4 linked regions of the Homo sapiens genome follow. The protein of the gene in region 1 interacts with the protein of each later gene in a biochemical or structural test. Each region holds a gene or a part of one and is shown on either strand. Other genes may lie near its edges. The genes, in order: FBLN2, ELN, FN1 and HSPG2.

Region 1 (8,025 bases):
ACACCCAGCTCCACCAAAAAAAGCACATAATGAACCAAGCTCTGCAGCGACACTGGGTGGTTTCTGACCACCTGGCACATATTCAGCCTCTTTCCAAGAACAGCCCCTAGATTTCGTTCTGTGGCCCTATCACCCTGCTGGAGCTCCAATCAGCACTTCCCATTCCCCTTGCAACAGCACCTGACTCAGAGATGGACACCAGGACAATTAGAGACTATAAGACCCACCTCAGGTAAAACACTGGGCAAACAGCTTCTCTCTTTCCTACTGTATTAGACTAAGATGATTTAACATCAAGGGTACCTGAAGCCATCTTGTCATCAAGTGGAGACCATCAGAGGCTGGCACCTGCTCATAAAATACACAAAAGCCAAGAAAGAGAAACAGGGTCATAGTGATAGCTGCCTGGCACCTGGATCCAGCCATGCCTGAAGCTAACTGAAAAACTGAACTTCACAATGACATGAACCCCTTTTGATTAACCTAACTTGGACCAGGTTTTCTGTCCCTTGCAACCAAGAGCCTTAACAGACATATGGGCACATACCTAAAACTGCTATGTGAGGGAGTTTCATAGACTCCCTGCAGTCCACTCACAGACCCCTGGCTGAAGTCCTGTGGCCCAAGGATAAAGAAAAAACTCCTAACGGAGACATTCAAAGCCCTTCACCAACTAACCCCACCTAGCTTTCCTAACCCATCCCCCTCTGTTGTCCTCCACAAACCCAACTCCTGCTAAACTGGAAAACTCTCTCTAGTTCCCAACCCCTTATCTTTCTCTCATCATTAGCTCAACCTGCGATGCCCTCTCTCCTGAAACTCTCCTAGAACCCTGAACACCCAAATCCCACCCCATGCTTTAAAGCCAAGCCCTGAGGGTGGGATAAGTAGGTAGATGGATGAATGGGTAGGTAGGTGGGTGGGTGGGTGGGTGGGTGGGTGGATGGGTGGATGGATGGATGGATGGATGGACGAGTGAATGGATGGGTGGCTAAAAAAGTAGGTAGGTGGGTGGATGGGTGGGTAAGTGAACAGATGGGTGGGTGGGCGGGTGGATGGATGGGTGTGTGGGTATATGGATGGGTGGGTGAGTGGAGAGGGGTAGATTAATTAATCCGTATGGCCCGAGCACAGGGCTGGCAGAGAGGATGGGATGAATTATGAATGTGAGTATCCCAGAAGGGCCTTCAGAAACAGAAAAGGCTTCCCTGAAGTCACCTGGCTAGTCACTGGCTAAGTGACCTAAACAACCAAGGTACGTGTCCACCTTTCATACAGAGGCACTTTCACTCCTGCGTCCGCCTTTTAGTCTCACAAAGGGCTGAGATCCTAGACTTGGGTGGCGGGGTGGGGGGAGTGGTGCCAGCAAAAGACAGGCAGAGAGAGACACAGAGACTGACAGAGACAAGGAAAGAGATCCATTAGTGAGACAGAAAGAGACCAAGACAGAGATGGAGAGAAGCACAGACCGAAAGCCAAGCAGACAGCCAGAGACAGACAGCGATGGAGACAGGCAGGCGGGGCCGGCCTACGGCAGAACCAGGCTCCCTTGGCCACCACAGCATCTGGAAGGAGGCAGCAGCCAGGGGAGCGGGCAGCCCAGTCTCTCTGCGAGTCCCTCAGGCCTTTGCTGTGCCCAATTTATTTGCACGGCCCTGAAATTTAGGAATTTCTCAGGGCTGCCAGTGAGGCGGCCAGTGTACAACCAACAGCGGGGTCTGGCCCAGTCTGTGGTATAACCGTTGGGCTCAAGAGCCTTGGAGGCCCCCAAGGCAGTCAGCCCCTGCTGCCAAAGCCAAGGGAGACAGCCAGCAGGACCAAGCTCTGGACTCCCAGAGATCAGAGCTCAAATTTGAACCTAGCCCTGCCACTAGGCTGCTGGGCACCTCGGAGCATGTGACCCTCTGAGCAGCAATGCTTTCATCTGCACAGTGGGTCTAATCACTGCAGCCTTTCTCCTCTGGGGAACCCCCCTTCACACTTCAGGCTACGTGGACTGCTGGATGGCCAATGAGAGGAGTCCCTGCCCCATCCACAGTGACAGGTCAGAGCAGTCACACGACCCAGTCACATGGCCCATGCTGATGCTCCTGGGAGGAGGCTGCCTTGCTCCAGAGCTTCTGAGCTCGAGGGTGAGCCTGGAGCTGCTGGGGCACCTGACCACCACACGGCAGAGCCTGCCTGGGAGTATGGAACACAGAGAACAGCAGAGCAAGAGATGGAGACCCGGTCCTGATGGCATCTGCAGAGGCCCTGGATACAGCCATGCCTGAAGCTACACCCTGTATTTTTTTAGTTCCATGACTTTTTTGCTGAAATTGTACTTTCTATCACCTGTAACCAAAATTATCCTGACATTTGTGAAAACAAAGAAAGAAGAACCACCTTCTTGTATTCATGGCTGACTTAACCCCAAAATGTCTGAGTTGCTGGGGTTATGTGTCCCTGCAGTAGACTAGACCCCTCCTAGGGCAGCAGGCTGCCTCGCTCAGTCCCCAGGCTCAGGGAATGGCTCCAGACATGCGCCTGGGGCCACATCAACGCATGACCTCCTGACCCTCCCCAGCCACAGCTGACTGGCCCAGGGCAGATGTTCTTCCCAGGCTGGGCTGGTCACAGCTCCTCCCTGAGCTCTTGAAGTGGAAATAAAAGAAAGCACAGACCACCTGCAGAGGAAGAAACAGCAAGTTCTGAAGGTGGGCACATTTCCTGCCATGTGGCGGGCCTCATTTCGAGAGAATCAACCAGGCTCACAGAGAAAGGCAGAGACAAAAGAAAGATGGGGCGTGAGGGAGTCCTGGTGGCTGCAACTTGACCCAGGGCTGACAGATCACTAGTCCTTCCAGGAGGATGTAGTGGGGCCCCTACGTCTCCTGAATAGCCTCAGACACAGACAAGCCTGTGCAAAGGGGCCCCTGCTTCCAGCAATGGGCAGGCCAACTTCCGAAGTCACTGTGGGGGACCAAGCCCAGGTCATAGGTGGGCTACAGTGTCATGTGCTGATGCCCAACCAGACCCTGGGAACCCCAACGTCTAGGGCCAAAGAGGGGTCACTCCTCCCATCCCATGCACAGGAAGCCATGGCCTCCCCACCACACCCTGCCTTGGGGTCACACAGGGACTGGCAGCTGGTGTTACAGTGTTTCCATCCTCAGCAGTTCATTAAACCAGTCTGTTACAGGCTGAACATCTGTGTCCTCCCTACATTTCTATGTGAAAGCCCTGACCCCAGTGGGATGGTATCAGGGGGTGGGGCCCCCCATTAGGAGGTTTAGATGAGGTTACATGGGTGGAGCCCCCATGTGTGGATTAGTGTCCTTACAGAAAGAAAGACCAGAGCTCACTAGCTCTCCCTCCCTCCCTCCCTCTCTTCCCTTCTCTCTCTCTCTCCGTCCGCCGCTTCCCACCCCCCACCTTGTGAGGACACAGCAAGAAGGCAGCCACGTGCATGCCGGGAAGAAAACTCTCACCAGGAACGAAATCTAGGGCTTAGACTTCCAGCCTCCACAACTGAGAAATAAATGTCCATCTTCAATCTCCTCCCCGACTCATCTGTGACATTTGTTATAGCAGCCGGAACCCGCCAGGACAGTCTTAGGGCACGGAGCTGGGGGCACAGAGGACATGGCCACTCCCTGAGAGCCAGACACTTGGTCTCAGAGAAGACATTCCTGCTAGAGGGCTGGGGCCTCCTCCATCAACCCCAGCCTAGCACGAAACATGCCAAGGCAGCCCCAGGAGATGTGAGGTATGTGACGCCCCTACCACAGGGGACTTCCTGGGCAGGGATAGAGATGACTGTTCCAAGGACAGCTGATTTCAGGGACAAGCACCAACGCTCGGTGATCTTGTGAGGAAATGTCCCCGCGAATCCCTCTGAACCAATCTGGCTATTGGAGACCGTCTCTAGACAGCACGGGTGTGCCTCCCACACCTCTCAGACGCTTGCCAACCATTCTTTTTAAAAACCAGGGTGCTGGGCACAGTGGCTCACGCCTGTAATCCCAGCACTTTGAGAGGCCAAGGCGGGTGGATCACAAGGTCAGGAGATCGAGACCATCCTGGCTAACACGGTGAAACTCCGTCTCTACTAAAAATACAAAAAATTAGCCAGGCATGGTGGCGGGCGCCTGTAGTCCCAGCTACTCGGGAGGCTGAGGCAGGAGAATGGTATGAACCTGGGAGGCGGAGCTTGCAGTGAGCCGAGATGGCGCCACTGCACTTCAGCCTGGGCAACATAGCGAGACTCCATCTCAAAAAATAAATAAATGAATAAAAATAAAAATAAATAAAAAAAAAACAGGGAACACTCACTCGGGCTCAAGGCTGTGGCAGGGCATACAAGGTGGCTAAGATGCTAAGCACTGTATTTTTAGTGCCATATTTATTTTTATGGGTATTGCTGGTTTAGGACAAGTGATCCTGATTTCTGTCTACAGTTGTGATCAAAGGTTTCCTTTAAAAGTAAGTATAAGCAGCCAAGCACAGTGGCTCACGCCTGTAATCCCAGCACTTTGGGAGGCCAAGACAGGTGGATCACCTGAGGTCAGGAGTTTGAGACCAGCCTGGCCAACATGGTGAAACCCCATCTCTACTAAAAATACAAAATTAACCCAGTGTGGTGGCACGCACCTGTAGTCCCAGCTACTCGGGAGGCTGAGGCAGGAAAATCACTGGAACCTGGGAGGCAGAGGTTGCAGTGAGCCGGAATCGCACCACTGCACTCCAGCCTGGGTGACAGAGTAAAATTCAGTATTTAAAAAAAAAAAAAAAAAAAAAAGTAAATATAAGCAAAACAGGGAAGGGATTTTTTAAAATAACATTAAGTTATTAAGTATGATGTCAAGGACAGGAGGTAGGAGGATGCAGCCGAAAACACGGTGGTGAAACTCATCCTCACTCTGTCAGAAAGGAAGCTGACACCCTCTGGCTTATTCCCCAAGAAAGTGCACAGGTCCCCGTAGAAGCCCTCTGCCTCTACCAGCCCCATAATCAGACAACAGCCATCAGGGCCCCTGGGATGCCCATGGGCCAAAACGGTGAAATTAATTTGTTTCCACAGCCATGCAGGGGAGCAGAGATGAGGGAGGACATTGAGATGCTCAGCCAACACCAACCACCACGAGGACTAGGGAAGTTGTCTAAGAAAACACAGTGATGAGCGAGATCTTCAGAGACAGACAAGAGACAGAGAGAAAGAGAGAACGTGTGTGTGGGCACGCGCATGCATGCTCATCAATGTTTTTTGACGATGTGTTTTCATTTTGAGGAGACTCTAAGAAGAACAGAACTTTCTGGATCATCTAAAAGCTCAACTTGGGACCAAGGTTGGGGCTGGGAATTCAGGGCCAGGATGGGGGTCCCAGGCTAAGGAGGGAAGAACTCTGGGAGGCTTATCAAGCACTGGGGTACCCCGATCACAAGCCCAAGGGCTGGCCCCAACACAGATGATGGTGTCTCCGTGGCCAGAAGACAGAAGCCACGGGAGACACAGGTGGCTGCACTCAGCCACACTCAAGAACCAGCTACGGCCAGCAGCACTGTCCGCCTCCCCAGAGTGGGCCTGGGGCTCTCCATTCATCCTTCAGCCTTCACACCAACCCTACTGGGGGCCCCTACCACCAGGCCCATTTTCCAGATTGAGAAGCTAAGGATAGGAGACAAATCCCTCATGATGCAGGCTCCGGGGGCTCAGGCCCAGGCAATGCTCAACTCCCACGGTGCTCCCCACGCGCCCAGCTGGGCCTCATCACACTTCAGAGCCCTCCTCCTGTTTCAAGGCTCTTCCTGGGCAACAATGTCAGCATAGCCAGGGGGGCGCCCCCGATTCACAGATGAGCAACCAGAAGCCCGACAAGGTGTGAGACCTGGGACTGGCAGGGTCTGCCTGAGCACATGGGTGCTCCCCTCCACATCCCTGGCCCGGCACAGGTGGGTGGCACCACTTCCTCACCAGCACACAGACCTGGGCGGGACGCACTGGCCGCCTACAATACAGCCCCTCTCAGGAAAGCCAGGCTCCCCACCCTCGAGGAAGGAAATAACCTTTCCCCAAACCAGCACTTGCTTTGCAACAATCTCCATATATGAGGGGAGAGAGAGGCATTTCTGCAACGTTTCCAAATTCCAATAACTGAAGACAATGGCACAAAATGACGCACGGCTTGACCCACGAGGGGCCCTGGGAAAGGACGTGCCCAGCTGAGGCGAGTTTGTGGTGTGGGCGTGCAGTGGTGCCCCGTACACGAGGGCAGCTCGCCAGGCAGGACCTGGAGGTGGACGGAGCTGGCTCCCGTCCCAGCTCTTCCTCCTCAGTCGCTATGTGACTGCAGGCAAGCACGCCCCACTCTGCGCCTCAGTTTCCCGGCCCTGTCACTCTCACAGGTCTCCCACCTGCCGCCTTGTCCTCTCCAGGCCCACTCCTACACCTGGGCTGCAGAGGGACCCTTCAACCTCACAGTCTGGCCGCGCCTCCTCTGCTCGGAACGCCCTGAGGCTGCCTGTTGCTCGCTCGCAGACCAGGACTGGAGGGCCTCCGTTTTCAGGGTCTAGTTGGCCTTGCCAGCCTTACTTCCCACTCTTCCTCCAAGCCCCCACTCTGAAAGAAGCCAGGCTTTCTTCTGTCCCCAGGTGCCCCTCACCCCTGTACCTTCATATCACAGTGCCTGCGCCACCTCCAGGAAGCCCTCCCTGACCACCCAGGCTCAGCTAGATGCCTCCTCAGTTCCCATGGCTTCAGCGTTCTCCTCCAGGATGGCCCCGACAAAGCATTTCAGAGCAACCCATGCAGGCACCCCTGGGGATGACCTTAAAAGGGGCCCTGTGTTCCGCTCCTCTGTACACCAGCCCCTGGCACAGCATTGGCCCACACCAGAGGCTACTGCCAGCACTGTGGGGTGATGAAGAGAATCCAAGGCCCTGGGCACACTCCCTGGCAAAGGGTTTCATAGAGCTGCTAAAGCAGGAACGCCAACTCCAGGGAGCCCCTCCCTGGCCGCCCCCACACAACACCCAGTCACAGCTCCCAGCCCTCCCGAGGTGAAGCCACAAACCCACTGCTCCCACCACCCTATAATGCCTGGCTGGAGGTACAGCCCTGTGGTCCCCTCTGCCCCTGTAGCATACAGGAGCAGCGCCTCTGTCTGGTCTATTGGGAGGGTAGACCTCTGCAGCCCCAGCATTCAGAAGGCGCCCTGGAGGCAGAGCTGCCTGCAGCCACACGGACACCTGCACCACCCACACTCGGGGACCTGGGGAAGGAAACTGGATGACAGAGGGCTGCTAAGGACCAGAAGCCATGCATGGTGTTTACGTCCACCACCGGGCAGGACAGCCGGCCTCACCCTGGCCTCCCCTTTCACTCACTCCACTTCCAATCCATCAAGAAATCCTGGCAGCCCCACCTGCAAAGTCAGTCCAAATCTGACCACTCTCACCTCCAATGCTGCCACTGCCCTAATCCAAGCCCCAACTTCTCTCACCTGGAAGCTGCATGGATCCCCACAGCTGCCCTCCAGCCTGTTCCCTGCCAGCAGCAGTGTGGGGGAAGGGACCTTTAGGATCTCAATTAGACCCCACCCCTCCCCAAACCAGAATCCACCAGCAGCTCCTCATCACACCCAATCACCTGCACCTGCTGTGAGTGAGGATCACTTGAGGCCAAGAGTTCAAGATCAGCCTGAGTAACAAAGTGAGACCTCATCTCTACAAAAAATAGAAAATTAGCTGGCTGGTGTGCGTCTGTAGTCCCAACTACTTGGGAGGCTGAGGCTGGAGGATCACTTGAGCCCAGGAGTTTGAGGCTGCAGTGAGCTGTGATCACACCACTGCACTCCAGCCTGAGAGACAGGACGAGATCCTGTCTTTAAAAAAAAAAAAAAAAAGGAGGGGCCGGGCACGGTGGCTCACACCTGTAATCCCAGCACTTTGGGAGACTGAGGCGGGCGGATCACGAGGTCAAGAGATGGAGGTCAAGTGGCTGTGCAATCTTCACCTTAGGCCCGAATTTGCTGCAGAGAACCCAGT
Region 2 (8,025 bases), on another chromosome or scaffold:
TCCTGTCTCTCTCTTTCTGTCTCTCTTTCCTTTTTTTTTGAACCAAATTCTCACTTACCCAGGCTGGAGTGCAGTGGCATGATCATAGCTCACTGCAGCCTTGAACTACTAGGCTCAAGCAATCCTCTCACCTCAGCCTTGCAGGTGGCTGGGACCACAGGCATGTGCCACCATGCCTAGATAATTTTTAAATACTTTTTGGAAAGATGGGGTCTCAGTATGTTGCTCAGGCTGGTCTCAAACTCCTGGTTTTAGCCTCCCAAATTGTTGGGATTACAGGCGTGAGCCACTGTGCATAGCTAGAATGTGATCTATTCCTAAAGCACAGTCAGAATTCTCACCACTGGGCACCCATTTAGTTGATGCAGCAGACACCTGTGGGCTGGCCCTGGAGGGGATGGAGTGGGAGGAGCCATGTCCCCTCTGCAGGGTCCCCTCCCTCTGCTGAGTTAATCAGGGCAAAACAATAGAGATGGCATCTCAGGTAGAGTGATCAGAAGGGGCAAAGGTAAGGAGGCATGAACAATGCATATTTGGGAAGGAACAAAGGCCAAGTCCATCTGGCTTTGCGGCTAGGGTCTCCGAGGTCTATGCAGGGGCCCGAGCCGTGGACTTGCCACCCCGGGAGGCACTCACCATACTTGGCTGCCTTAGCGGCTGCTGCTGCAGCTGCAGCTGCAGCTGGAGTCCCAACGCCTGAAAACACAGCCACAGAGGGTGAGGTCCTTGCCCTGTGGCCATCTCAAGGACACACCCGCCCCCTGCTGGGACAGATGTTACCTGCGATGCCTCCAATTCCAGGAATTGCCCCAGGCACGCCAGGAACACCAGCCCCTCCAACACCAGGGAGGACTCCGGCTGCTCCAGCACCTGTTGAGATGGGGACAGTGCAATGTAGTTTCCCAAGGACCCTCCTGAGGACAGGCAGGATGGCCACTTAGACGCCGGCGTTTTCACCAGTGTGATCTTATCCAGGAATGGGGCCCGGGTGTCTCCAGATGGGCCTGTCTGGGGAGGCCCCCACCCCACTCCACTGTTCCTTGACTCTCCCCCAAAGTGTCCATTTCAACACACTCATTAAGGGACTTGTATGTTTTCAGACAAATCCCATTCTAATCACTGCCACATACTGAGAAACCACAAGTGGCCGCTCCCTGGGCCAGAGGGTCCCCTGCAGGAATGTTCAAGACTTCCTCTCCCTGTGTTCCGAAGATGCAGCCAAGTTTGTAATCCAAGCGCCTGGCTGCTTGGCTCTGGCAGCCCCTCACAGCCCTGCTCTCCCGCTCCCACATTGCAGCCGTCCCCACCAGCCGCTGGGGCCAAGGAGCCTCGGGTGCTGGGAGGGGGGCCTGCGGGGCCTCCACTGGGAGGCCCAGCTTCAGGCTTCTCCCCACATTCTCGCTCTCTCGGGCTGGTGGGGAGATAAGGAAAGGGCTTCCCTGGGGCTGAGGATGAAGGAGGACTTCAGCCCTAGTGGTCTGACCCTGAGGTGGGCACTACCTGGGGCAGGGGACAGATGCCCACTCCACCCACTGCACGGGCACAGGAATACCACGTTCCATCTGCAGCCATGCTAGCCAAGAACTCACTGACCTGAGCAGTGAGTTAACATTTTTATAGTACACATTAAATTGATACATAACTATTAAATATTTTAAATGCTTATATATGCACCACCTAAAATTATCTTTCTAACCACCGTGGTACCCATTCCCTCTGCTTGGCCTCCTCTTTCCTGTTTTAACCACATGGTAAGCTCCATCTTTATTTTTAAGGCCTAAATCACATGTCACTTTCTCTGGGAAGCCTTTCTAACTTTCCTCAGGTAGAAAAAAATGCCTCCCGTTTCTTGACTCCCACAACAGTGGCTATATTCTCTAAGAGAACTCTTGTTTGTCCCTGATCTCTGATATGGATGGGTGGGAGGAGGCAGTGAGGGAGGGAAGGAAGGAGGCATGGATGAATGCATGGAGGAAAGAATGAATGAATGAATGAATGAATGAATGAATGAATGCATGGGTGAATGGATGGATGGGTGCATGGATGCATGGAGGAATGGATGGATGGATGGATGCATGCATGGAGAAATGGATGGATGGGTGCATGGAGGAATGGATGGAGGGATGCACGGAAGAATGGGCAGATGGATGGATGGATGGATGGAAGAATCAATGGAGGGAGTGATGGATAGATGGATTGATGGATGGATGGATGGATGGATGGATGGACGAGTGGATGGATGGGTAAATGGATGGATGGATGAGTGGATGGATGAATGGATGGATGGATAGATGGATGCATGGAGGAATGGATGCATGGAGGAATGGATGGATGAGTGGATGGATAGAGGGAAGAATGGATGAATGAGTGGATGGATAGAGGGAAGAATGGATGGAAGGAAGAATTGATGGGTAGATGGATGGATGGATGGATAGATGGGTGAGTGGATGGATGGATGGATGGATGGATGGATGGATGGAAGGATGCATGGAGAAATGGATGGATGGGTGGATGGATGCATGGAGGAATAGATGGATGGATGGATGGATGGATGAATGGATGGAAGGATGGATGCATGCATGGAGAAATGGATGGGTGGGTGCATGGAGGAATGGATGGAGGGATGCATGGAAGAATGGGCAGATGGATGGATGGAAGAATCGATGGAGGGAGTGATGGATGGGTGGATTGATGTATGGATTGATGTATGGATGGATGGATGGATGGATTGAGTGGATGGATGGGTAAATGGATGGATGGATGAGTGGATGGATGAATGGATGGATGGATAGATGGATGCATGGAGGAATGGATGCATGGAGGAATGGATGGATGAGTGGACGGATAGAGGGAAGAATGGATGGATGAGTGGATGGATAGAGGGAAGAATGGATGGAGGGAAGAATTGATGGGTGGATGGATGGATGGAAGGATGAATGCATGGAGGAATGGATGGATGGATGAATGGATGCATGGAGGAATAGATGGTGGATGGATGGATGGAAGGATGGATGGAAGGATGGATGCATGCATGGAGAAATGGATGGATGGGTGCCTAGAGGAATGGATGGAGGGATAGATGGATGCATGGAGGAATGGTTGGATGGATGAATGGGTATATGGGGGAATAGATGGATAGATGGTGGATGGATGAATGGAGCGAGGGAGTGATGGATGGATAAATGGATGGATGGATGAGGGGATGGATGGATGGGTGCATAGATGGATGGATGCATGGAGGAATGGATGGATGCGTGGATGGATGGATGGAAGAATGGATGGAGGGAGGGATTGATGGATGGAAGAATGGATGGAGGGAGGGATTGATGGATGGATGAATGGGTGGATAAGTGGATGGATGGATGGATAGATGGCTGCATGGAGGAATGGAGGATGGATGAATGGAGGGAGGTAGTGATGGATGGGTGGATGAATGGATAGATGGATGAGTGGGTGGATGGATAAATGGATGGATGGATGTGTGGACAGATGGATGGATAGATGGATCCATGGAGAAATGGATGGATGGATGGATGGATGGATGGATGGATAGATGGATGGATGAATGGATGGAGGGAGAGATGGATGGATGAATGAGTGGATGGATGAGTGGATGGATGGATGGATGCATGGATGTGTAAATAAGTAGATGAATGGATAGATAAGTGGATGGATGGATAGATGGATGCATGGAGGAATGGATGGATGGATGGATGAATGGATGGAGGGAGAGATGGATGGATGAATGAATGGACGGATGAGTGGATGGATGCATGGATGGGCAGATGAGTACATGAATGGATGGATGGATAGATGGATGCATGGAGGAATGGGAATGGATGGAGGGAGGGATGGAGAAAGTAATAGATTGATGGAAGGATGAATGGATACATGGATGCATGGAAGAATGGTTGGAGGGAGGGATAGATAGATGGGTGATGTTGAAAATTTTGAGTAAATGGGGGTATGTAGGGGCCACTTTGGAGGCAGGCTGTCAATAGTAATGGGAATGGAGAGGCTAGGGGCCTGGAGGCCACCAGGTGGGGACTCCAGGGGCACTCACCGAACTTTGCTGCTGCTTTAGCTGCCGCTGCTGCTGCTGCCTGGGGGCCAACCCCTGGGGGAAGGAAGCAGAGGGGAGAGACCTTGAAACAGTGCTCCTGTATCTCCAGAGCCCACTTGTTCCCAGCCCCAAGAGAGCCAATCCACTGACATGTGGGTATACATGGGAGCTTCAGAGTAGGCAGAGGCTGATGGAGCTGCCCCACTCCTCCCCCAGGATCCTGCTCCAGGTTTGGACCAGGGTCTGGATGCAGGGTGGGCTGCTGCTTTCAGGAGGGAACCTCACCCACCCCAGGGCTCTGGAGCCTGGAAGATCAGTGCTCCCTTGGCTGGAAGTGACGTGAGGCTTTCCTTACCTGTCCCTGTTGGGTAACCAGCCTTGCCCGCTGCACCAGCCACTCCTCCGGGCCCATAGCCTGCAAAACAGAGAGGCTTGATGGTCATCTGTGCAGACATCACCACTGCTGCCCTCCCCCTCCCCCTGCTCTGCCCTCGGGGCCCAAGCTGTCCTGAGTCTGCACCTGTCACCCCCAGCCAGAGTGAAAACAAATACAAACACATGTATGGAGTTGTTATGTCCATTTTACAGATGAGAACACAGAGGCTCAAAGAAGCAACACAGCTCACTTAAGGTCTCATTATTGATAGGTGGGAGGGCAGGGATGGAGACCCATGCTGAGTCCAAATTCCATGCCCTTTCCTTCTGAGATTCCCACTCCAAGACCCCAACCCTGCCCCAGCGAGGTGCTCTCCTGGCCCAGGGCTGGAAGCACAGCACCCTTGCTAGGACCCTGGAGAGGGAAAGAGCTGGAAGCCCACAGTCTAGAAGGGTCTCACTCACCATAGGGCAGTTTCCCTGTGGTGTAGGGCAGTCCATAGCCACCTGGAGAGAGGACAGAGCAAACTCAGGGGCTGCCCCATGCCTTGCTGGGCTCCCACCAACCTGGGTGGACAGATCTACCCCCACAGGTGCTAAAGCTTGAGACCTCCCACATCAGGGTCCTGAGCTGCTCCCAGGAGAGCAAAGGCGCTGGGTGAAGGAGGGAGAGGACACCTCTGCCCCCGAGGCCCATGGAACACCCATCCCCCTACAAATTCAAGCCCCATCATGGCCCTGGAGTCTGAGTATTTTCCTTACACCCCCTCCTCAGTGGAAAGCATCTTATTGTCTAAGCTGATTGCAGAGGTAGGGGCGGGAGCACGAGTGGGTGGATGTTAGAGGGATCTTTCCAATGAACCGTGTTCCTTTCCACCAGCCTAATAGCTTCAGATCGGGACTATGGGTCTCTGTGCATGAGCGTGTGTGTGTGAGTTCAATACCTGCAGATGACTTTCCCATGCTCTCCTTGGCTGGTGACCATACAGGGGCTTCAACACCCCTTCCCTGCCACCAGAGACACCTGTACCCAGGCTGACTTCTGTGCAGGGAGGTGCAGTGAGTGGTACATTTTTTTTTTCTTCTTTTTCTTTTTTTGGAGGAGAGTCTCACTCTGTTACCCAGGCTGGAGTGCAGTAGCGCGATCTCAGTTCACTGCAACCTCTGCCTTCTGGGTTCAAGAGATTCTCCTGCCTCAGCCTCCCCAGTAGCTGGGATTATAGGCCTATGCCACCACACCTGGCTAATTTTTGTATCTTTAGTAGGGACGGGGTTTTGCCATGTTGGCCAGGCTAGTCTTGAACTCCTGACCTCAAGTGATCTGCCCGCCTTAGCCTCCCAAAGTGCTGGGATTACAGGTGTGAACCACCACACCCGGCCGAGTGGTGCATCTTGAACCGTCCCTCTGACTTACCAGGCAGCTTGGGGGCCTTGATGGGATACCCCAGTGGGACTCCAGGTTGCGGTCCCCCAAAGGGTCCAACTCCTGTGGGAATAAAGAGAGCAAGTTCAGGTCCCAGCACCCCCTTCCAAACCCTCCGCCACCCACTCCACTTTCTGCTCAGACAGAAGGAGCTTGCTACAGCATCCAGAAACCATCCTGCTTCGAGGGACTCCCTGAATCTCCATCATGGGTCAGTTGAGAAATTCCCAGTGACAGGCCACTTCCTCCAGGAAGCTACGGGATTCTCTCCCTCCTGGGGCCTGGGCCCCAGTTTGGGCCTGCAGCCCTTGGCACAGGCTGGAGGGTTTTCTGGACTCCTTTGAATTTTGGGCTGCTATGCCAGTGGGGGGAGCAGGCCTGGGATGGGTGCCACTTTGTGCTACAGCCACTGCAAGACCTGGCTCTGCAGGCGTGGGAGAAATTGGGCAGGCTTGGATGGGATCTTGGGTGCCCAACCCCTCCCAACGCCAGAGCCTCTGCCTGGCTGGCCACCCTGCTTCTCCCACCAGCCTTGCCTCACCTGGGATTCCAGCAAAAGCTCCACCTACACCTGTAATGATAAAAAGCTGTCACTACAGCCCTGGAACTGTGGACACTGGGCCAGACAGCACCAAGGGGCCAGGAGGCCCAAGGAATGGCCAGTTCTTCCCAGACCAGTCATCGCATGCTGCGCTCACATGAACTCTGGGGTTTCTTTTTTCGGAGATGGAGTTTCGCTCTTGTCGCCCAGGCTGGGGTGGAATGGGGTGATCTCAACTCACCGCAACCTCTGCCTCCCAGGTTCTGGCGATTCTCCCGCCTCAGCCTCCCAAGTAGCTGGGATTACAGGTGCAGGCCACCACGCCCAGCTAATTTTTGTATTATTAGTAGAGACAGGGCTTCACCGTGTTGGTCAGGCTGACCTCAGGTGATCCGCCCACCTCGGCCTCCCAAAGTGCTGGGATTACAGGCATGAGCCACTGCATCTGGCCCTCTTTTCTTTCTTTCTTATTTTGCGGGGGAACGGGGTCTCTGTTGCCCAGGCTGGAGTGCAGTGGTGTGATCATAGCTCACGACAACCTTGATCTCCTGGGCTCAAGAGATCCTCCTGTCTTAGCCTCCTGAATAGTTGGGATCATAGGTGTGTGTGACCATGTCCGGCTAATTTTTTAATCATGTTTTTGTAGAGATAAGGTCTTGCTATGTTGCCCAGGCTGGTCTTTAACTCCTGGGCTCAAGCGATCCTCCCAGCTCACCCTCCCAAAATACTGGGATTACAGGTGTGAGCCAGTGTGCCCAGCCACACTCTGAGGTTTTTCAGCACCAGGCTGCCCAGGGCTGGAACATAAAAAGTGTCACCCAGAGGGCCCTGAGCCAGTCCAGGATCCCACCCCATTTCACACCCGGGGCCAGAAGGTGGTTGGAGAGTCCCTGCCATCAGCCCTCTGTCCAGACAGCTGCATACCTGGAGCCTTGGGCTTAACTCCTGCTCCAGTGGGAACTCCAGGGAGCACCCCCACACCGGGGAACCGAGCTCCTGCCGGGGGACAAAGCAGTGAGTGTAGGAAGGCAGGCCTTGCAGGCCCTGCTGGGAACCCCTCCCCTCCTCGGGTCCCCCAGCTGACCTCCCTTGGGACTGACTGTCAGTGACAGGCACGGCTCACGGGGTGGGTGGAGAAAGGACCTGTTTAGTGCTGACTTTCCTTCCCTGTCTGGCTCAAGGTCAGAAGATCTGAGTTTTAATCCTATTTCCCAGCCATGTGAGCTGGTGCCTCAGTCAGCCTCATCTCTATGCTGGAGTTAATCACAAAAGCCGTCTCGACCACCCTCCGCAGAAAAGGTAAAGAGAGGGACAGCTGCTGCGCGGTGCCACTCGCCCGTAGACCAGGGAGGCCCATGCTCTCTGGGGCTCTCGCTCACAACCCAGACCCCCAAAGCAGCCATCCAGCTACAGCTGGGACCATGCCAGCGTCTTCCACCTCTCCTGTCTCCCCTGGGGCTGGGCAGCCTTGGCTTTCAGCGTAGTGGGGGAGAGAGGGAGGAAGGGCCACTCCATCAGCAAATCCCACATAACAGCCTAAATCTGGGCTTTTGGGGGAATTCAGGAGGTCACATGTTGGGTGGGGTGGTCAGGCCCTGGCAGGGGAAAGGAGGGTGAGGGGCA
Region 3 (8,025 bases), on another chromosome or scaffold:
AGCCAAATGCTCAACTGCTTAATTCACAGGAATTTATACATGTAAAGTAGCACAGTCTTCTATCAGATGAGGGAAGGGGCTAAAATTAAACAACTGGCCTTAGGAATAAAATCTGTCACTTGGCATAGACAGGACTTAGCACTCTCTGTTGGTGTGGAGTAGAGAACTCTCCTGTTGGAAGATTGGGGATTCACGGTTTTGATTATCCCCTATCTCATGTGCCTTGGTGAATTTTCAGCTGCTGCAAATTGAGCAGCCAGGTGGCACGCTATTGATTTAAAAGGATTTCCCAGGTGCTACAAAGAAGAGTTAATGATCTTTTAACCTCTATAGAAGCTTTTAACCTGTATAGTCAGAAAAAAAAATGGAAATAACATTGGAAAAAAATGGAAATAACATTGGAATAACATTCTCTGCAGACAGAAATGCACAATGTTGGTAGCATTTTATATCAGGAGCAAAAGCCAACTGTCCCCATGTCTGCAGAAGGGGTATTTTCTTTATAGGTAATCGTTTCAGTATTTAATCACTCAAGAGGACAGCAGCATGGTGAGATGGAGAGGGTCTGGGAAAAGACATCAGGAAACCTGTGCCCTATATCAACTCAGATACTCAGAAGTAAGGACTCAGAGTGTTGTACTAAATAATATTTGAAATCCCTTCCAGATCTATAATCATATCACCATTTGAGAGTCTGTCAATTACGTATGCATTTTGTGAAGACAACAGGATATGGCAGGAGGTGGGGGAGAGATTAATTTAATATAAAGTTGCTCATTTATTTCATGTTGATGTGTTGCATTAAATCCCAAAGATAAAAAGACAATGGCAACAAAGGTACAGTCAACAGAAAAGCCCATCTCTGGTGTACAGCAGAGGGGAGCCTGTGTCTAAATAGTACGTGTTTACATACCAGAGTTGCCCACGGTAACAACCTCTTCCCGAACCTTATGCCTCTGCTGGTCTTTCAGTGCCTCCACTATGACGTTGTAGGTGGCACCTCTGGTGAGGCCTGTCAGAGTGGCACTGGTAGAAGTTCCAGGAACCCTGAACTGCAATTATCGGTACATCCAAAGCAGAGAGAAAGCATTATAGTGAGGAATGACACGGGCTCTCCTCTTACCAATAACCCTCACTGTTTAAACAAAGCAAAGGAAGACAAAAAACAAAAAACAAAAAAAAAAAAAAGAGGGAGGGTATAGTGGTCCTAACCAGCTGAGGAGAGAAATGGAACAAGGATAGGGGCCATCGTTCCTGCCAGATTTTCCTGCCAACAATCTACCTACGTGCTCCGTAGTTAACAGGAGCCCTCGACAATACTAGAGACGGCCTGCCATTGATCTTGCTTCAGTCGCAGGTCTGCATAAGCCCTCTGGAAGCCCTGGCCATGTTTGCTTCACATAAAACCTGGACACTGCGCTATATGGGAGACACGGTCATGCTCCTCCAGGTGACATCTGACCCCAGTGTGGAGTCCTTAAAACAGTTGGGCAAATCCTCAAACTCATGTTTCTAAGCTCATAAATTTCCTACAGTGTTGTCAGTTTTTAAATTCTGCCACTTTCTAAAAGTAACAACACAATAAAAATTGATACTGTCAGTGGGCCGGGTGTAGTGGGTGGCTCATGCTTGTAGTCCCAGCACTTTGGGAGGCCAAGGCGGGCGGATCACGAGGTCAGGAGATCGAGACCATCCTGGCCAACATCGTGAAACCCCGTCTCTACTAAAAATACAAAAATTAGCTGGGTGCGGTGGCACATGCCTGTAATCCCAGCTATTTGGGAGGCTGAGGCAGGAGAATTGCTTGAACCTGGGAGGCAGAGGTTGCAGTGAGCCGAGATCACGCCACTGCACTCCAGCCAGGGCCATAGAGCAAGACTCCATCTCGGGGAAAAAAAAAAATGGATACTGTCAACACAAATTAAATAATATACGTTTTAGAGAATCAATCACTTATCAGCTGCTATGCACAGCTTCGCCTGTTTTTTTTTTTCTTTAGATATGTTGTAGATAGTGGGGTTCTTCAAGGACAAATCGTAAAGGTAGTGTTTTAGACTTCTGCACACAAATGGAAATTCAGGTAGAATATCTTTCTTTTCTAGAATCATCTATCTTACTCAAAAAGGAACCTCAAATGTGTGAGAATAAGAGAAATAGTTTCATTTTCTCTATGAAATAAAAGCTAGTGACTCTCTGGTATGTCCTCCAAAGTAGAGCCATATTGGGATTTAAAAAAAAAAAAAAGCAGGGCTTAAATGTGCCATCTTCTAAGAGGTTCTAAAAGTGGAGCCACTTTTTTTTTTTTTTTTTTTTCAAGAGACGAGGTTTCACCATGTTGGCCAGGCTGGTCTTGAACTCCTAACCTCAAATGATCCACCTGCCTCGGCCTCCCAAAGTGCTGGGATTACAGGCGTGAGCCATCACACCCGGCCATGAAGCCACTTTTTATTCGAGGGCTGGTCACTTCAGTTACCTAACTTATTCCTTTCTGTGCTGCCCCATGAGAAGTGAAGAGAACAATTAATTACCTGTAAGGGTTCTTCATCAGTGCCAACAGGATGACATGAAATGATGTACTCAGAAGTGTCCTGGAATGGGGCCCATGAGATGGTTGTCTGAGAGAGAGCTTCTTGTCCTGTAGAGGCATTTGGATTGAGTCCCGGACCGTGTGGGTACAGGTGATAGTCTACATCTTCCCTGGGGATGTGACCAATTTGGATTTCCTCACCTACATTCGGCGGGTATGGTCTTGGCCTATGCCTTATGGGGGTGGCCGTTGTGGGCGGTGTGGTCCGCCTAAAACCATGTTCCTCAAAGATCATTTGTTGCCCAACACTGGGTTGCTGACCAGAAGTGCCAGGAAGCTGAATACCATTTCCAGTGTCATACCCAGGGTGGGTGACGAAAGGGGTCTTTTGAACTGTGGAAGGAACATCCAAGATCTCTGGTCCATGAAGATTGGGGTGTGGAAGGGTTACCAGTTGGGGAAGCTCGTCTAGCCGAGAGAGGTTAGAGCCAAAAAAGCAAAGCGCATTAAGCTCCAGGAAGTAGCAGCAATGATAATAATCGATTCAGGCAACAATGACTGTTCATCAATTTGATAAAAGCCACCAGAAAATGAGCAGTTCTGAGATCACAAAACACTTTTTCCAGAAAGAAATCTTTAGGATTTTTCTCAAAGGTTTCTTTATAGTTTAGAAAGAAAAAAGTGTTAGTATGAATTTATCATACACACAGCTTTAAACCGCTGAGCCCCGTAGAAGCTGCCTCTGCTCAAATTAGACCTAATGGAACTGAAATGTGCAGTCTTTCTCTTTCTCTCTTTCTTTTTTAAATTTGAGAAGCAAGTTGTAGGAAGTAGAATCCAGACTAATCATATCAGTGTCATAAGTATGAGAATTACAGAGGTTTGGCTCAACAGTTTTTCATGGTTTGAAATGGTAAAAATAGATAAAACACACATGTTCATTTTTGAAATTTTCCTATATCAGGAATACACATTTTCTTGAAATTAACTGAAACTGGATGCAAAAGTAAGACATTATTTAGCTCTAAGTTGTAGAAACCAAATAAAGATAAATGTGAGAGGTTTCTCTCCCTCCTTTAAAAAAGGAAACATTTTAAAATTCAACAGAAGGTATAAAAGAAGAGCAATGATAGCTCTTCTTTTACATTTTAACATCTTGTTTGAATTTTTAAAAGGTGAATAACAAGGCTTTATATTGAGTGGCTGTAGTAAAGAAAAAAAATAAAACCAAACTCTGCAGTGCATGTTAAATTATTTCTCCTATTAAAGAATACAATATATACACTATGCTGTTAGATAAAAAAAATCACAAGAAATGCATCAAAACATGGAGAACCTTTTCATATTGCAAGATTGCTCATTTGTTATTAGTTTTGTCCTATCTTTCTCCTTGTTACCTGCAAGATACTCTTACCTGTCTTTTTCCTTCCAATCAGGGGCTCGCTCTTCTGATTATTCTTCAGGGCAATGACATAAATTGTATATTCGGTTCCCGGTTCCAGGCCTGAAGGGAGAATAGAACCATCACATTATGTCAATGGGCTCAGCTAGTCAAGTGGAAGTCGGTCTCACCAGCAGACGCTACTGGGAGCAGGCACTTCCTCTCCAGCTGGCTGTTGGCCTCTTGAAGGTAAAATCGACTTCACTTTTCCTCCATAAACACCCAAATATCCTGCATATAAAGTCCGCATCGCAAACTAATTATCTTACTATCATATCTGACGCCTGAATAGACATTTTTTGGCTAACTTTTCCAGGGTATTCTTTTTTTTTTTTTTTTTTTTTTTTTTGAGATGGAGTCTGGCTCTGTCACCCAGGCTGGAGTGCAGTGGTGCTATCTCGGCTCACTGCAAGCTCCGCTTCCCAGGTTCAGCCATTCTCCTGCCTCAGCCACCCGAGTAGCTGGGACTACAGGCACCCATCACCACGCCTGGCTAATTTTGTTTTTGTATTTTTAGTAGAGATGGGGTTTCACCGTGTTAGCCAGGATGGTCTCGATCTCCTGACCTTGTGATCTGCCTGCCTCGGCCTCCCAAAGTGCTGGGATTACAGGCGTGAGCCACCGCGCCTGGCCTTTCCAGGGTATTCTTTTAACGTGGTCTTATTTGCCTTTTTGAATTTAAGAAAATCTATCAGCATCATATACCACCACTGGAATATAAATTTGAAAGAGAGTCCTGCAGATTATATACATGAATCTACTTAGGCCTAATAACCAAGCAGTCCTCAGTGGCAGATCAATGAAAAGTGAAACTAAAGGCAAGTGAAGGGTAGGAGAGATTGGCCAGTGTTTGTGCAGCCTCTGTGGGAAGTGTCTAGTTCAATTCCTCTCATGTCTGCTTCTATTTTCCTGTTCCCCCCAATTCTAAAAAGCCAGTGTCTCCTTCTAATGTCTGTATGTTCTGTGGGAATTTTAAAGTCCAGGTGATACTCTATACAGACTGATATGGTTTGGCTCTGTGTCTGCATCCAAATCTCATCTGGAATTGTAATCCCCATGTATTGAGGAGAGGAGGTGATTGGATCATGGGGTGGTTCCCCCAGGCTGTTCTCATGATAGTGAGTTCTCACAAGATCTGATAGTTTTGTAAGTATCTGGAAGTTCCTCCTGTGTGCTTCTCTCTCCTGCTGCCATGTAAGACATGCCTGCTTTTCCTTCCACCATGATTGTACATTTTCTGAGGCCTCCCCAGCCATGCGGAACTGTGAGTCAATTAAACCTCTTTATAGCAGTATGAAAACAGACTAATACAGATAGTTTAAATATTTCATCTCTTGGGCAAAAATAATACTAGAGGCTTATAGTCTTTCCCACCAAGGTAGACAACTCTTATTCCCCATTCCAGGCATTCTTCCAATGTGGGTGGTTGGGACTGCTCTGCCTCAAGACCTATCCTGTGATAGTGGTCAACAAGGTCAATGGCAGGTGGTGCACTGGCAAGTCCTGCAAGATTGCCATATCTATAGAGAGCTGAGTGTAATGACAGAATCACAATCAGCTAGTATGCTTTGAAAAATATCTTTCTCCAGGACTGAATTGACAGGTATCTGGCAAACTTGCAGCGAAAGGAAAACATGAGTCTAGTCATGCCATTAGTACAGTCTTGAAATTGCATTTTCCTTCACTCATGCCTTTTGGGATGTATTAGGCTCTACCACTCCTACACAGAGAATGCTTTTTGAGGTTATCAGGAACAGAGTTTCGCATTCTCATGACACAGTATCAAAGACGCTGTGGGAGTTTGCTAAGGACTTCATGTGTCCTAGGTAGTAAGAAGGAAAATGACAGCATGGAAGCAGCAATACCAGTAATAGTAGCCTCTGTGACACCAGGGCGGGGCCGAGGGACCACTTCTCTGGGAGGAGACCCAGGCTTCTCATACTTGATGATGTAGCCGGTAATCCTGGCACGTGGCGGCTGCCATGATACCAGCAAGGAATTGGGTGTGGTGGCCAGGAAACGCAGGTTGGATGGTGCATCAATGGCTGAAAGAAAACAAAATTAAGTCTCTAAGAAGGCAAATAACCAAGAAAATTACTCCCACACTTTTCTCCCGAGCCGTTCTAAACACACTTAAAAGAATCTGAGAATACTGTAAACCGGAAACAAGATTCTCTGGAATCTATAATACAAAAATATACGCCTCACATTTGTTTTTTGAGTTCATGAAACTGATTGCATACAAGTCAATGGCATTTCCTCAGTAGAAGGTATAGTTACCAGTGGAGGCGTCGATGACCACAGGGGAGCTCCGAGCATTGTCATTCAAGGTGTACAGGTAGATCTTGTAGTCAGTGCCTGGTTGTAAACCTGGGATTTGAGAAGAGATGATTTTTAACAGTTCTTGCTTTTTACTAGGAGAATTCTCAAGCTAGCCTGCAATTTTTCTGGGTTCTTCTATCATCCCATATTTATATAGACTACCAAAGTGGTCCACATTTGAACAGTAAAGTAGAGCATGCTATGGATGTTAACTGTTAACAAGAAACATATCTCGAAAGTGAATCACTGATACAGACAAGGACACTGGTAAAGTAAATTCTGGAATGCAAAAATGCTATGTTGGAAGAGGCCCTCTTGCAGAATGGGGGTCAGCCACTTATTGAGGTTTTCTCTTTACCGTAATCAGATGGTCAATAGTTGAGCCTTGGAATCACAATTTTAAAAAGCTAAAAAAGACCTCAGATATTGAATATTCTTCGGTTACAATTTTGGCCTTTATTAAGTGGTATTGTTTACTTTTATATTAACTATGCTTTTTAATGCTAAGATCTATACATCACTGTTTTTTATTTCTTTTAGTTTTAAACCTTATGTTACAATTTTTTAAATAAGAAAGGGCACAATGATGGAAGATCAAACTTGTTGATTGACACTTACGCAATTTCCATGACAAATATTACACAAAATCAGGCATTCAAAGGACAAAACTATTTCTGATCATAGCATGAAAATAACGTTCTAAAACTGGGTTATGATGATAACACTGAAAATAAATTTTATCAGTGTCAGTCGTAGAACAGTTAATAAGCCCGTTTACATTGTGGGTATTTGTTAACAAATGTGGTTAGTGCAATGAGTTCCCTGACCTGTGATGGTGTAGCTTCTGACATCTGGCTTGATGGTTCTCTGGATTGGAGTCTGGCCATTGGCTGGAACGGCATCAACTTGGAAGCCAGTGATCGTCTCAGTCTTGGTTCTCCAGCTAATGGTGATGGTGGTCTCAGTAGCATCTGTCACACGAGCCCTTCTTGGTGGGCTGACATCTGCACAGGAGCATAGCTAGAGATTAGTGCCTGCTTGGCTCATCCATGTAAAGTTTTGGTATTTTAAAACGTTTCCTTGGTATATATCAAATTCATCCATTTCAAGAAATATATAACTAGTAATGTGTAGATTATCTCCTTTGGCATTCAGAGAGAAAGGTCAACTGTAATTAGAAAATAGGAAAATATCTACCTCTCAGACATTTTATTTTGAAGAGCTGAAAAGCTTTATAGATACTACCAGTGGTTCCCAGGGCTGGCTTTATAGTATCTACAAATACTTCAATAAATATTAAAATTATTAATGTATTATAATGTAAAAATATGTGTGGTAGGAGTTACAATAACATGGCCAGCTAACAATTTTGTGTGTGTGTGTGTGTATGTGTGTGTGAGAGAGAGAGAGAGTGTGTGTGTGTGTGTGTGTGTGTGTGTGTCTAATATTACGGCAAGTATTTTGTATTTTCTCTCAACAGGTACAATGCCATCCCTCTTTTATAAATGATAAAACTTTGACACTTTACCTGACTTTTGAAAAGGCATACATCAAGGTATTGATATAACAGAAGACTAGAATCTAAGCCTGATTTGGTCCAATGGTTACTGTGCTGTGATATAATTTGGATATTTGTCCCTGTCCAAATCTCTGTTGAGTTGTAATCTCCAATGCTGGAGGTGGGGCCTGGTGAGAGGTGTTTGGATCATGGGGGCAGATCCCTTGTGGCTTGGTG
Region 4 (8,025 bases), on another chromosome or scaffold:
ATCGCACCACTACACTTCAGGCTGGGAGACAGAGTGAGACTCAGTCTCAAAAAAAAAAAAAAAAAAAAAAAAAAAGAGAGAAAGAAAATGATAGAGTAGAGGCCACTAGGGCTGGGATTTATCAGGCCAGAATTTCAATCCATCCAGCCCAGTAAGGGATCCAAGAAGAGGCATGATCCCAGTTCCCAACTATTTGAAAATTGGAAACGCCAAACAAGGAGAGGGTTGAGTCAGCTGGGGTTAGTTAGGAGGGGGAGGCCAGGACCAGGAGGTGGGGGCCGGAGCCGGCTTCCTGGGAGAGAGCCATGGGCAGGCGCAGGGAGTGGGGAGGTGGTGGCAGGGACCCGGAGGTGGGCTGGGAAGGGGCCAGAGGCAGCTGGGAATCCCAGCCCCACCCGTGGAGAAGCATCTGTGGAGTGACCCGAGGCCACCTCTGAAGTCCTCCCCAGGCTCAGGCCCCAGCCAGGCCTCCCCTTCCCCACCGACTGGGATGGGAGAAAGATGGGGAAAGAGGCCAAATGTTACAAAACACCTAGGTGTGACCCGCCTGATGGGGAGGGGGGACACATCTCTACCCAACAGCCCAAGCCCAAAGCATAGGGTGGGGTGGGGTGAGATCCCCAGGCCTGTGTGTCTCTCTCTCCTGAGTCCTGCTGTTTCTCTGAGGCCACGGGAGCCAGATTTAGAGTCGAGCAGCCCCACATCCCACCAAGTAAGGACCAACTGCAGGTTGGCCCAGAGCTCCCCAGGCAAGGTCCTGCCTCCTCCAGTGTAGGCCAGGGGGGGACAGGGCTAGGATGGGGTCCCAGGACATCCCCCACCCCCCCCACTGTCACTACCCTCAGGATGCACGAACATCCTTTCTGCACCCATGGGAGCCCCTGGCCACACCTCCTGTTGCTCAGAGCCCACCAACTGCACACATCTGGGAAGGGGACAAGGCGTCCAAAGACTCCAGCCTTTCCCAGGCCACACCCTGGGGTGTGCCCCCCTCCTTCTCCCAGTCCAGGAAGGAGCAATCAGGGTGGAAGGATGGACTCTGTCCTACAGCTGCGGCCTCGGTAGGCGAAGGAGGGGCAGTGACAGATCAGAGGCAGTTACACCCGGAGCTCTGAGACTGCGAAAGAGGCCCAGGGAATGGACAATCCCCTTACACAGCCATTCATTCAACAAGCCCAGTACAGGACCTGGGTCATAGAGAAGGCGTGCCCGGCTGTGCCCTGGGAACCCTGCCTCAGATATTCCACCGGCCTTGTCTTTAGCAGGAACGAGACTTAGTGCAATCACGGATTGTCAAATACCTGCCACATTCCAGGCACTGAGCAAGGTGCATCCACCTGGTTACTTCATAACCACCAGGAAGCAGGCCTCCCCATTTCACATTTGACTGAGGCTCAGAGAGGTAAAGCAACTTGCCCAAGGTCACAGAGCCAGTCAGGGCTGGGCCAAGACTTGAAGGCAGGGCCTTTTGAGCCCACATCTTTCCCTTGACCACAGTGCCCAGGGAAGTGGCTCTGAGACCAATGAGGACACAGACAAGTCAAAAAGGGCAGAGTGGACATCCCAGCTTGTCCCACATCTTCTGGGGCCCTGCAGAGAGCATGGCTGGGCAGGCAGCTCCCAAGTGCAGGGGCCAGAGCACGCCCCTTTCCAATCTCAGCAAGGAGCCTGGGCCTTCTTGGCCTGCTGGCTTCCTCAAAGCCATTAATTTGCTCACTTGAATTTGTTTGTTTGTTTGTAGTTTTGAGACAGAGTCTCGCAATGACGCCCAGGCTTGAGTGCAATGGCATGATCTCAGCTCACTGCAACCTCCGCTTCCCAGGTTCAAGCGATTCTCCTACCTCAGCCTCCTGAGTAGCTGAGACTACAGTCATGCACCACCACACCCGGCTAACTTTTTTGTATTTTTAGTAGAGACGGGGTTTCACCATCTTGGCCAGGCTGGTCTCGAACTCCTGACCTCAAGTATCTGCTCACCTCAGCCTCCCAAAGTGCTGGGATTACAGGCGTGAGCCACCGCGCCCATCCTTTATTCACTTGATTTTTTTTTTTTGAGATGGAGTTTTGTTCTTGTTGCTCAGGCTGGAGTGCAATGGCGCGATCTCAGCTCACCACAACCTCCGCCTCCCGGGTTCAAGTGATTCTCCTGCCTCAGCCTCCCTGAGTAGCTGGGATTACAGGCATGTGCCACCATGCTTAGCTGATTTTTTTATTATTATTATTTTCAGTAGAGACGAGGTTTCTCCATGGTGGTCAGGCTGGTCTCGAACTCCCAACCTCAGGTGATCCGCCCGCCTTGGCCTCCCAAAGTGCTGGGATTACAGGTTGTGAGCCACTGTGCCCAGCCTCACTTGAAGTTTTAATGTGTTCACCTACTATCTGCCTAGCACCAGGCAAACAGCAATGAACAAAGCCAAGTCCCTGCCCTCATGCAGCTTCCACTCTAGATGAGGGGGTAAGAATAAATCTACAAGCCATGAGCTCCGGCTGTGGAGTTCTAAGGCAGAGTCTGCAACTCCACAAATGAACACTCAGCAAGATCCCCTCCGCCTACACCATAAGCCAATGCAGAGGCCCCAGCTTGGGTGGGGACGGGGGAGCTCCTGGCTGGAGATGGGTAGGGGGATGACTGCCAGGCATGTGAGCCAGTCCAACCCCCACCCATGCTGTCCCCTCCATCACTTGCCATTCTTTTTTCTTTTTTTTTTTTAAGAGACAGGATCGCGTTCTATCACCCAGGCTGGAGCGCAGTGGCAAGATCATGGTTCACTGCAACCTCCACCTCCTGGGCTCAAGTGATCCTCCTACCTTGGTCTCCCAAAGTGTGGGGATTACAGGTGTGAGCCACCACTCCTGGCCCACCTGCCGGTTTTTTTTTTTTTTTTTTTAGGAATTTTTATTGTCCAAACAAGAGATCGTAAGAGAAGACACAAATAAATTAACTGTTCTGAGAATTCTGGACTCCACCTCCTGCCCACTCCTCCTGGAACTTTCCCATCTCAGGTAGTGGCAGCTCCATCCTTCGGGATGCTGAAGCCAAAGACTGTGGAGGCATCCCGGACTCTTCTCTTTCTGTCCCGCCCCACATCCAACCCACTAGCAAATCCTGGTGACCCATCTTCAAAATGTACTGGGGATTCAACCATCTCCCACCTCCGTGGTCCTAGCTTGAGCTCCCATCGTCTGTCCTGGGTCACGGCCTCCTTGCCTTTGCTCTGGACCCTCCCCGTGCTCCTCTCCACACAGCAGCCAAAGCAATCCTATGGAACACCGGGCCCCTTCAGTGACTTCTCAATTCACTCAGACGCAAATCCAAGGTCCTTCCCATGGCCAAAGCTCTGCTGATCACCCTCTGCCACCCCCCTGCCTGCTGCATCCACCATGCTCCCCCTCACTGATGCTGCTCCAGCCCCACGGGCCTCCTTGCTTTTCCACAGACATGCCAAGGACACTCCCACCTCTGGGCCTCTGCACTAGCTGTGCCCTCTGCCTGGAATGCCCTTTCCATTGATATCTGCGAGGCTCACCCGCTCACTTACTTCAGGTCTCCTTCAGTTCAAATTTATCTTATCAGAGGCTTTTCCTACCACCCCACCCTACCTACCCCGCCTCATCACTCACTGCCCTCTTCCCTGTTTTATTTTTTCTTCTGAGCACTTATCACCACCTGATGTATTTCATTTATTGTCTGTCTTCCTGCACTAGCTATAACGCAAGTGACATGAGAGGAAGGAATCTGACATTTTTATTCTCTGCGGTAACCTCAAGATCTAGAACAGGGCGGGTGCAGTGGCTCACGCCTGTAATCCCAGTGCTTTGGGAGGCCAAGATGGGTGGATCACTTGAGGTCAGGAGTTCAAGACCAACCTGGCCAACATGGTGGAACTCCATCTCTACTAAAAATACAAAAATTAGCTGGACGTGGTGGCGTGTTCCTGTAATCCCAGCTACTTGGGAGGCTAAGGCAGGAGAATCTCTTGAACCTGGGGGGCAGAGATTGCAGTGCGGCGAGATCATACCACTGCACTCTAGCCTGGGTAACAGATCAAGACTCCATCTCAAAAAAAAAAAAAAGATCTAGAACACAGTCAGATACATAGAAGATGCTCCACAGATATTTGTGAAATGAATTTTAAAAAACGCTTAATCACATACATCATTTGTTCATTCATTCATTCAACACACTCTGCAAGGCTTTGCGCACCAGATACTCCCCTAAAACCCAGAGCAACAGGACACCCTCCTTCATGGCTCAGGGAATGGGCCCTGGTCAGGAGCTAGGAGCTGGTCCTAAGGCTATCTCAGGATGCCACAGATGCCTCCAGGGATGCTCTGAGGTTCCTGCAGGCCTGGCACAGATGAGCATCATGGAAGGGAAGGGAGAGTGGTTCTGGGGGCAGCAAGACTCAAAGGCCTCACATTCCCAGGCCTCAAAGAGCCACCTTGTTCTCAGGGCTTTCATGACAGCACCCCCGACCCGGCCACCCCAGCAGCCACGAGCCACACCCCTCTCAAGGCTGCTATTGACACAGCCCTGACGCCACCAGGCTGGGCAGTGAGGCCGGCGGCTCCCCGCGAAGTGAGTTCCACACATACTTCTGGGTTTCAGTCAGCCAGCTCTGGGTGCTGGGGCAGCTGGCCCCGGGAGCAGGAGGGGGTGGCAGGGCCAAAGAGGCCAAGGCCCAGGCGGAAGCAACATTCCAGCAGGGCCGGGACCCTCGGCGCAGCCTCCCTCTTCTTGGCAGGAGCAGGAGCGAGAGGAGAAAAAGGCCAGGGTAGGCCCTGGGACAGGGAGAGGTAGGCCCAGCAGATACTTGGGAAGCTGCCGGGGAACCAAGTCATATTCACTTCCTCCTCCAGTCTGACCCCTCATAGCTGGGACTGGATTGGGTGAAGGGGAGGGGGGCAACAGGCCAGGGCTGGGAACCCTTCCCATATACCCCAAGTAGTCTGAGGGTGCAGAGCCCACACCTCTGGCCTCCAAGTGGCCTCTGAATCATTGCTCCAGATCTTTCCATAGCCTGGGCAGGCCCTCCTGCCCTCCCTCCTGAGCCTCTCACCCCAAGGCCAGGCAGCCCTTGAAGCTCTGCAGACTCACCCTAAACCTTGAGCCCCCAGGGAACAGCCAGAAAAAAACAGCGCAGGCTCCACACAGGACAACCAGGAGGGTGTTCTTCCCCTTCCCCCACTAGCAGCATGGCAGGGGCAGGGGCCCCTGACCTCCCACACTGGGCAGGGCCAGCCTGGCCCACTCAGGCCTAAAAGTCCCTGGATAAATTCAACTGCCTGTAGAGTCCCAGGAAATATCTGATGAGAACATTAATGAATTAACAAACCTAAAAATGACCACCCTAGAGTTCCTAGGCTTCCCCTCCAGGCACAGGCGTCCCTAGGAGACCCCACGGACACTGAGGCATACCCAACCTAAGAGCTTCTGTCCCCGAGCCAATCCCTGATATTCCTTGCCTGAGGTAGCCCCTGTACTACTTGGGACCAGAGTTCTTAATCAACATCTGTGACAAGTTGTAGCAATATCTACTGACTGCCCACGACAAGCACATGGGGCAGTACGTGGCGTGATTAGGAGAGCTTCGTCTGGATTCAAAACTTGGCTTGCAGCATCTCTGAGTGTGTGGATATGTAAGTCACTGGGCAAGTTACGTAACCTCTCAGTGCCTCAATGTCCTCTGCTTAGAGAATGGGGATCAGGCTAGTAGCTACAGCTTAAAACATTCGACAAAGATATTCACTAAGCACTTACTACCTGCCAGGTGCTAAGCATACAGCAGTGAACAAAAACAAATGAGGTCCTGCTCTCGTAGAACTTAAACTGAGCAGGAGGAAGCAGATAAACACATAAACAAATACAGACAAATACAGGCCAGACAATTGTGAGAACAAAAATAAAGCAGTTTAAGGAGACAGCCATTATGGGAAGAGTGGTAAGGACCAGAAAGAGGGAGAGGGTCATATGGATATTACGGGGACAAATGTCCCAGGCAGAAGGAACAGCAGACGCAGAGACCCTAAGGTGGGAGTGTGTTTCACATGCTCAAGAAACAAAGCCTTGGTCAGGCGAGGTGGCCCATGCCTATAATCCTAGCACTTCAGAAGGCTGAGGTGGGAGGATAGCTTGAGTTAAAGAGTTTGGGACCAGCCTGGGCAATACAACAAGATCCCATCTCTATTTGTTTTAAATTTTTATATTCATTAGAAAAGAAAAGGCTGGGTGCAGTGGCTCACGCCTATAATCCTAGCACTTTGGGAGGCCGAAGGGGGTGGATCATTTGAGCCCAGGAGTTCGAGACCTGCCTGGGGGAACATGGCAAAACCCTGTCTCTATAAAAAATACAAAAATTAGCCAGGTGTAGAGGAGGGTGTCTGTAGTCCCAGCTACTCAGGGGGCTGAGGTGGGAGGATCACCTGAGCGTGGGAGGTTGAGGCAGCGGTGAGCTGTGATTGTGCCACTGCACTCCAGCCTGGGTGACAGTGTGAGACCCTGTCTCAAAAAAAAAAAAAAGAAAAGAAAAAGAAACAAAGACTGGTATAGCTGGAGGAGTTTGAGAGGAGCAGGTGGCAGGAGGCCGGGTGTTGCAGGGCCTCGTAGGCTATATTAAGTCAGGGGCTGGGACCTAATTCTGAGCACCGCAGGGAGGTGGTGAGCAGGAAACACAGGTGAATGGGAGGATTCACTGAGAAACTCAGAGCAGACAGTGGGTACTGGGTAAGTCTGAAGTACCCGTATTACTGTGTCATCATCCAGCCTGGCACCCCAAGAGCTCCTTCCCCTCCACTTTGCTCACCCGTCTTCCGGGCCCTGAACCCAGTCACCTCCTGCCACCTTCTTTCCACCGTCTCCCGGGCAGGGCTTCAGACCCACAGATCCTAACTTGTCTGCGCTCAGCCTGAGAGCAGGCCCGGGCCAAGCCAGGCAGGGGCCACAACTCCCCAGACAGGGGGAAATGGGCCTAAGGGATGGGGGGGTGGTCCATCTCTGCCCCTTCCAGCTTCTACCCTGCAGACAGACCTGCAGCCTGCCCTCCTTCCCTCCGGGAATGTCCAGGGCACACTCAAAACCCCATCCTGTGCCGGCTGCAGGTACGGAACAAGTAGGCTAGTGTCAGGTGACAGAGCAGCTGGCTGCGTGGAGGAGGGCTGAGGGACCGCCAGGAAGGGGAGGCTCCTGCAGTTCAGCTGGCAGCCTCCCCAGTGAGGAAATCCAGCTGAGGCAGGAAACAGGTATCTCAGCGACTTCCCTCCTAGGCCCTGGAAAACACCTTAATCACCACCGAGGCTCCCTCAAGACGCCTGTCCCCTGCAGGGCCGCCCTAAAGGGGTCAGCAGGCCAAGGCCTGCCGAGTCACCCAGGCCCAGCCCCCTCCTCCAGCAAGCCTCCTCACCTCCCAACAGCTGAAATTACACCCACACTTAATCACAGATCAGCTTCCTGTGGTCCTGTCCCCCGTCCCGGGGAAGCCTGGAGCTCCCTAAGGCCCATCTCACCCTGCTGCTGTGCCCAACCCTTCCCCATAAGCCACTGGCTCCGGACCAAACTGAAGGGCAGATGAGAGCAAGGGTAGCAGGCAAAGAGGGTCCAAGGTGTGCTGGGAGCCTGGGCTAGGAATTGATCTCATTTTTGACTTGCAACAAACTCCTCAACCCCATTGTACAGATTTGGAAACTAAGGCTCAGAGAGAGGAACTCGCCCCAGATCACACAGCCAGAAACCGCAGCCCAGAGACTCATACTTGGGTCTGTAAGACTTCAGAGACAGGCCAGGCATGATGGCTTATGCCTGTCATCCCAACACTTTAGGAGACCGAGGCGAGAGGATCGCTTGAGGCCAGGAGTTTGAGACCAGCCTGGGCAACAAAGTGTGATGCCCTCTTTTTTTTTTTTTGAGACAGAGTCTTGCTCTGTCGCCCAGGCTGGAGTGCAGTGGCGCGATCTCGGCTCACTGCAAGCTCCGCCTCCCGGGTTAACGCCATTCTCCTGCCTCAGCCTCCGGAGTAGCTGGGACTACAG

The links.
Region 2: the proteins of FBLN2 (region 1) and ELN form a complex in vitro, tested with the Homo sapiens proteins (one study listed by BioGRID).
Region 3: the proteins of FBLN2 (region 1) and FN1 form a complex in vitro, tested with the Homo sapiens proteins (one study listed by BioGRID).
Region 4: the proteins of FBLN2 (region 1) and HSPG2 form a complex in vitro, tested with the Homo sapiens proteins (2 studies listed by BioGRID).

What each region holds. Positions count from the first base shown.
Region 1 is NC_000003.12:13,551,703-13,559,727, reverse strand, and holds part of FBLN2 (fibulin-2 isoform a precursor), read right to left. Parts: intron 1-8,025. UniProt on the Homo sapiens protein: Its binding to fibronectin and some other ligands is calcium dependent. May act as an adapter that mediates the interaction between FBN1 and ELN.
Region 2 is NC_000007.14:74,044,595-74,052,619, reverse strand, and holds part of ELN (elastin isoform a precursor), read right to left. Parts: intron 7,399-8,025; coding exon 7,327-7,398; intron 6,433-7,326; coding exon 6,403-6,432; intron 5,925-6,402; coding exon 5,853-5,924; intron 4,946-5,852; coding exon 4,904-4,945; intron 4,479-4,903; coding exon 4,419-4,478; intron 4,118-4,418; coding exon 4,064-4,117; intron 871-4,063; coding exon 781-870; intron 697-780; coding exon 637-696; intron 1-636. UniProt on the Homo sapiens protein: Major structural protein of tissues such as aorta and nuchal ligament, which must expand rapidly and recover completely.
Region 3 is NC_000002.12:215,369,381-215,377,405, forward strand, and holds part of FN1 (fibronectin isoform 1 precursor), read right to left. Parts: intron 7,295-8,025; coding exon 7,118-7,294; intron 6,339-7,117; coding exon 6,249-6,338; intron 6,014-6,248; coding exon 5,834-6,013; intron 4,032-5,833; coding exon 3,942-4,031; intron 2,996-3,941; coding exon 2,529-2,995; intron 1,053-2,528; coding exon 914-1,052; intron 1-913. UniProt on the Homo sapiens protein: Fibronectins bind cell surfaces and various compounds including collagen, fibrin, heparin, DNA, and actin. Fibronectins are involved in cell adhesion, cell motility, opsonization, wound healing, and maintenance of cell shape.
Region 4 is NC_000001.11:21,926,714-21,934,738, forward strand, and holds part of HSPG2 (basement membrane-specific heparan sulfate proteoglycan core protein isoform b precursor), read right to left. Parts: intron 1-8,025. UniProt on the Homo sapiens protein: Integral component of basement membranes. Component of the glomerular basement membrane (GBM), responsible for the fixed negative electrostatic membrane charge, and which provides a barrier which is both size- and charge-selective.